Homo sapiens: one gene and its partner. The protein of the gene in region 1 purifies or fractionates together with the protein of each later gene. This does not show direct contact. Each region holds a gene or a part of one and is shown on either strand. Other genes may lie near its edges.

What was found. Proteins that work in one complex are often made in the same cells at the same time.
Region 2: the proteins of HNF4A (region 1) and BMAL1 purify together in Homo sapiens (co-immunoprecipitation; one study listed by IntAct). This does not show direct contact.

The regions. Positions count from the first base shown.
Region 1 is NC_000020.11:44,362,199-44,365,698, reverse strand, and holds part of HNF4A (hepatocyte nuclear factor 4-alpha), read right to left. Parts: intron 1-3,500. UniProt on the Homo sapiens protein: Transcriptional regulator which controls the expression of hepatic genes during the transition of endodermal cells to hepatic progenitor cells, facilitating the recruitment of RNA pol II to the promoters of target genes. Activates the transcription of CYP2C38.
Region 2 is NC_000011.10:13,284,290-13,287,789, reverse strand, and holds part of BMAL1 (basic helix-loop-helix ARNT-like protein 1), read right to left. Parts: intron 1-3,500. UniProt on the Homo sapiens protein: Transcriptional activator which forms a core component of the circadian clock.

The DNA.
Region 1 (3,500 bases):
GTTTTAGTCTACTTATAGGTCTAGTAAATTTTAAGAATTTCATTTTCTCCAATATTTTACTTTGAAAAATTTCAAACTTTAAAGTTTGAAAGACTAGTATAGTGAGCACTGATGTATCCCTTCGCCTAAATTCACCAACTGGTTGCATTCTGTCACATTTGCTTTATTGCTATCTCTGTATCTATCTATGCACTTTTTTATTGAAACATTTTATGTAAAAAATTGTAAAGGCCAGGTGCAGTAGCTCACACCTGTAATCCCGGCATTTTGGGAGGCTGATGCAGGAAGATTGAGGACAGGAGTAGGAAACCAGCCTGTGCAACACAGCAAGACCTGTCACTACAAAAAAATAAAAATAAAAAATTAGCTGGGCATGGTGGCATGCACCTGTGGTCCCAGCTACTTGGGAGGCTTAGATGGAAGGATTGCTTGAGCTTGGGAGGTTGAGGCTGCAGTGAACCATGATTGTGGCTCACTGTAGCCCACATGACAGAGCAAGACCCTGTTTCAAAAACAACAACAAAACAAAAACAAACCAAAAAAAAAAGATACTTTTTTAAATTGTATATTTACACTTGTTATACATATTTAACGTGTGTGTGTGGAGGGACGTGTGAGCATGACCCTACTGCACAGACGATCAACTGTGTACCAACTAATTCACGCTCCCCTTTACAAACTTTACAGCTAGTCCCGCCCCGCTAGGGACCACATCTTCCAGACCCCCTTGCATTTGGCAAGGGCCATGTGACTAGTTCTCACCAATGGAATGTGAGTAGAAGTGAAAGTGTCTTTCTGGGCTAGGGTGACCTTAGGGGTCCCTGGATGACTATGCCACAGAGGTCAATAAACTTCTAACTTAAAGTCTGCATTTGCTTGTTACATAAGCTATATTGTCTGAACTAATATAATCCCAATAAATTGAAGGACCGGCTGGGCACGGTGGCTCACACCTGTAACCCCAGCACTTTGGGAGGTCGGGGCAGGTGGATCACGAGGTCAGGAGTTCAAGACCAGCCTGGCCAAGATGGTGAAAGTCCGTCTCTAGTAAAAATACAAAAAGTAGCTGGCCGCGGTGGTGGGCACCTGTAATCCCAGCTACTCAGGAAGCTGAGGCAGAGAATTGCTTGAACCCAGGAGGCGGAGGTTGCAGTGAGCCAAGATCGTGCCGCTGCACTCCAGCCTGGGTGACAGAGCAAGACTCCATCTAGAAAAAAAAAATAAAAAAAAAATTGCATGACCTATTCCTGGGTTAAGATTGCAGTTTGAAACACACTGGTGTGGTCTTCTGATTTTCCAAATATTTTTGAACTGTGGAGACCCTCCATTAAATATTTCATTTAAAAGTCAAAACAGAGTGCCGGGTGCAGTGGCATGAGCAGGTAATCCCAGGGGCTGGGAGGCTGAGGCGGGAGGATTGCTTGAGCCCAGGAGTTTGAGGCTAGCCTGGGCAACATAGCGAGACCCCTGTCTCTAAAATAAAATAAAAAGAAATATACAAAAGTCAAAAAGAAGTGTCTCTGATGGAGCCAGAGGTTGAAGGGTGGGGAGAGGCTAAGCCCTAGTCCATTTGAACACGTCCCTACCCACATTACCCTCAAAGGGAACCCTGCAGCATCTTTCCTGACTCTTAGGACCCAGGGAATACTGTGTGACAATGGCTGAGCCAGATGGTTGTCATACCTCCATTTCTCAAAAGAGGAAATGGAGGCTGGGTGCTGTGGCTTACACCTGTAATCCCAGCACTTTGGGAGGCCGAGGTGGGAGGATCACAAGAGGCCAGGAGTCCAGCCTAGCCAACATGGTGAAACCCATCTCTACCAAGACTACAAAAATTTGTCAGGTGTGGTGGCACACACGTGCAATCCCAGCTACTTGGGAGGCTGAGGCATGAGAATTGCTTGAACCCAGGAGGTGGAGGTTACAGTGAGCAGAGATAGAGCCACTGGGTGACATTGAGACTCTGTCTCAAAAAAAAAAAAAAAAAAAAAAGAGTAGATGGAGAAACAGCAGGAGAAGGACTTGAGTGAGGTCACAAACAGCTACCCAGGGCCAGGGCCAGAGCCATCTCCCAGGTCTCTGATGAGGATAGGTCTGTCCCCTCCCTTTCTATGCCTCTCATCTGCCTCCTCCTCTGTGAAGGAGCCACACAGGCCCCCATCTATGAACCAGCACCCCCAAGAGGAGACCCTGGGCATCCCAGGGCCCCAGAAGGCTTGCAACAAAGCCTTGTCCTTAGTCTCCAGCCAGAGACAGTTGCATCCTGGGACCAGTTATCTATTCCTTACTCATCTCTGTTGTTTCTACAACAGCCAAAATGATGCTAACACCTAGTAAGCATCCAGTCCTTTGCATATAGTAGATGCACACACTATAGGTATAATAATAATAATCGTTCAAATTCACATAGCACTTTCTATGTGCTAGACACTCAGCACTTTACAAATATTGACTTTATGTCTCACAACAACCCTGTGAAGTAAATGGTATTATCATCAACCCCATTTGACAGATGAGGAAACTGAGGCAAAAAAGATTGGGTCGGCCGGGCGCAGTGGCTCAGGCCTGTAATCCCAGCACTTTGGGAGGCCGAGGCGGGCAGATCACTTGAGGTCAGGAGTTCAAAACTAGCCTGGCGAACATGGTGAAACCCCATCTCTACTAAAAATAAAAAAAAATTAGCCAGGCATGGTGGCAGGCGCTTGTAACCCCAGCTACAATCCCAGCTACTCAGGAGGCTGAGGCAGGAGAATTGTTTGAACCCAGGAGGCAGAGGTTGCAGTGAGCCAGGATCATACCATTGCACTCCAGCCTGGGCAGCAGAGCAAGACTCCGTCTCAAAAAAAAAAAAAAAAGAGAATTGAGTCATTCACTCAAGGTCACACAGCTAGTAGGTGGTAGAAGGTGGTAAACTCCTTGGATGCTATTATGACATAATAGCTGAAAGAATGAAGATTTGGTGTCAGACTAGATTTTAATCACCTATTTGCAAGGCGATGCAGGGAAACGTGACTTAACAACTCTGAATCTCAATTTCTTTGTTTATAAAATGGAGATAATATTTCCTACTTGGATGGGTTATTGCAAGGCTTAAAAGGGAGAAAACATATCAAATAGCCAACATCTTGCCCATTACATAAAAGGGGCTTAAATGAAAACAAATTCCTTTCGTTATCATTGACCCATCCTTATGCTACAGGCATATGAGTCAGGAAAAATGGAAGGCACAATTCCTTCACTTAAGCATCTCAGCATGCTTTTTTTTTTTTTTTTTTTTTTTAAGACAAGTTTCCCTCTGTTGCCCAGGTTGGAGTGCAGTGGTACAACCTCGGCTCACTGCAACCTCCACCACCTGCGTTCAAGTGATTCTCCTGCCTCAGCCTCCCGAGTAGCTGGGATTACAGGCGCCTGGCACCACGTCCAGCTAATTTTTGTATGCTTAGTAGAGACAGGGTTTCACCATGTTGACTAGGCTGGTCTGGAACTCCTGACCTCAAGTG
Region 2 (3,500 bases), on another chromosome or scaffold:
ATAGATTTGCTGCAGTTTGGAGCCAATTAAAGATAACAGAAGATGAACATCAGCAGGGCAGGGACAACCATCATCAGTAAAAGACACTGATACCTGACCAACCTGAAGAATAAGAAAAACACAGATGTCAAAAAGAAATGGCAACCTAAACTCCAAAGTACCTTGCAAGACCAACCTCATAAGCCTATACTGCTAGAGAGTGGAGGAAATTAAAAATTTATCCAAAGCTGAATTCACTTTTTGAAGGAATAAACAAGTATTTATTGAGAGACTTTTCTGTACAGACACTGTTTTCATTGCTAGGGGTATAGCAGAGAACAAGAGATGACATTGCCACTGGTATTCCAGCATCCAAGAAGGCAGGCTAGGTCTAATGCCACCCTCTAGCTCCAAAGTGAAGTCCATGAAGCAATAACTTCTTGTACCAACTCCTCGCTATGCCTTCAAGTAAGGAAAAAAAGGAACACACCATTCACAACTGACCAAATAGAGGCAGAGCTAAAAGTGCTCTGTCACTCTCTATGAGGCATCCCTTACCCTAGAATGCACTGGGGAAGTTTGCAGCACAGCACTCTGCACCTAAGTCATTTGAACACTGCCAGTTGAGCTCTGCCACTAACGTCACTTAAATATCAAACCTCTCAAATGGCAAATGTGGTTCATGATGTCGAAAACAAAACTCAGAGGTGGGAAGGGAGGGTGGTAGTTGGTTAAAGGATCAGGTACTTTTCACCACTGCAAAACCTTAGGTTCCTTTCTTCTTTGGAGCAAAAACCTCTTCTATCCTCTAAAACCTTGAAAAAAATTTTTTCTTCCAGCAGGGTACTGAAAATAGCTTTGCATTTAACATTTAAAGTTGTTTTTGATCCCACACTCTTTCAGCTCTGCTCTCTCCTGCAAACTCATTCCATTCCCTAAGGGCACTTATAACTATATTTTATAAGCAGGCAAGCCAGAGTCACCATTTTTATCCCTAAGAGTTAAAAAGAAAAAACAATTTACATAATTATATGGAAGATAAGTTGGCCAAGAACACAGAAATCTTATCTGGACCAAAAGTTCTGGGACAAAATTTCTTTCAACTCATCAAGAAAGATAGCAGATCAAAATCAAGGTTCCTACTGAGAATGTCACTGCAGAGCTCTGCACATGGGGAACTGCTTGAGTTCCTCATTGCTGAGTGCCATATACTTCTTCAAGAAGAAATCAGAGGCAGCCATTTGAGGGCAGGTTTGAACAACGAAGTATATCTACGTTTCCCTGCTATGGTGAGAAAACAATAGGATTTTACAGCCAAGAAGAACCTGAGAAATCAAAGTTCAAAGAGGATAACTTACTCAAATTTACTCAGCCAGTCAGTGGCTGGGCCCAGTCTGGAGCCCAGGCCTCTCCCAGCTCCCAGTCCAGAGTTTTCCCCACTCTCTGCACTACTGTCTCATTTATAACACATGCAACCAAATCTTAAAGGTATAAAGGTAAAAAATCCCTTCTATAAAACTTTAACAGACTGAAAATACAGTAGGAGAAGTGACTGAGGTAAATGGGTCCTATGATTGCTAACAGCAAATGAGGTACAATGCTACTGAGAGGAGGGTCTACCAGCAGAAGGCTTGACGACTGCTGATACCAACCAGTATGTTTTCAGCTACAGTCACCACTAAATAGCTTTTGAGGGCTCGCCTAGAAACTACATCACTATTTACTTCATTGTTTCTTATAGAAAAATTTATCCCAAGTTTCCACCTAGTGCCTTACAAATAAACTTTTGGAACAAAACCTGTTTTTAAGATGGTTGTGCACATGAAGCAGAATTATGAGGTCTAAAGTTCTGCACTAAACACAATTAAAACAGTAATATTTGGTGAAACATGCTAGGAGTGCATTTATAAGAAAACCCTTCAAACCCTTAATTTGTTTATATGCAATATAATGTTTTATTAAAAGCCTTCTAAGCAGGGTATGATAAATTATTATTTTATAAAATTACTATTTTATAATATATAACCAATGACAAATGCTATAATTCTGTATGTAAGTATTTACAAGGCCTTCCTAACACTGGGCTCAGGGTTAAAGGGAGTATAAAAGAGGCAGAAAACATCTGTACACAAGCAGCTCATAATCGAGTCACACTAGCCTTTACTTTCCTCAAAAATATCAAGCACCTTTCAACCCCAGGGCCTTTACATGTGCTGTTCTCTCTTCCTGGGATACTTTCCCCCAGATCTTTCTGAAGCTAAGTTCAAATGTCACCTCCTCAGAGAGGTCTCCCCTGTGATCTAGATAAGGTACCCTCCCTCCCACCATACCTCATCGCTACTGCTTTACTCTATTTGCTTGCTATCCTAGCACTCCTAGCACTTCTCACAACAAGGCATGAACGTGTTTCACTATTCATCATCTGTCCCCTCCTGCGGGCCCCTTGTTTTGTTCACTGCTGTATCCTCAGTGCCCACAACAGTGCTAGGCATCCAATAAACTTCACTGACGGAGTAACTGAGTGAAACTGGAGAGTGGGAAGTGAGCGTAAGATAATTAACCATGAAACAATTAAAAAATGAGACAACTGGCCATCCTGATTCAGTATGATATGGTAATTTGCTCATTATGACATACCCCTGCTTCTGAACGAATGAATGGTTGGCAATCAAGAGCAAAAGGGAGAGCACACACAAAGGGAACAAATGTTATCAGAGGTACCTCACAGAGAAGTGAGATCCAAGGCAGGCACGGGCAAGGAAGAGAGGCCTCAAGGGAACAATTTAAGCAAAGACCCCGCTAGCCAGAGGGAGAGTGTGAAGTGAGGTGGCCTAGGGAGGACAGCGGAGAGGCAAGGAGGACTGAACCTCGGGCACAGGGCTGTGGCTGGGAATGGAGGTTGAGCGGGGAAGCAGGGCTGGGGAGGAGGAACAGGACCAGACCCTGGAGAGCCTGGAAGACTGGACACAGGGGTGCCACCTGCATGCCACTGGCACCAGGGCTGTTCTTAGCAGGCAAAGCTGGCCTGTCATCTGGGAAGATTGAAAGGAGTTGAGCAGAGCAGAAAACTGGTCAAAAGATGACCTGGGTGGTCTAAGTACGAGGGGGCAAAAAGAGCTTCTTCCCTCTGCTTAGGTGTGAGAAAGATACAAGTGAGCAAGATGCGAAGGCATCCCCCACCCCCCGCCAAAAAAAAAAGACAATTTCCAGAGCATCTCACAGTACCACACCATGGCAGATTCAGGCCAACTTCCCATCCATCCTGCTCCCGGCGCACTCAAGAAAGGCAGAGCTCAGGACGAGAGCTCTGAGGGCAGGGCACGTCCTTCCATGCCTCCCAAATCTGAGGTTAATTATATTCAGGACGGCCTGTGTTTATTATCCTTTTATTCTTTGAAAAAAAAAAAGTGGTATCTAATTTCACTGTGCAGTATATATTTGAACATTATATAACACATTTTTATGTAACAGGTTCTTGACATAAAACAATGTGTCCCTTACTATCTAAATGTATTTGGGGA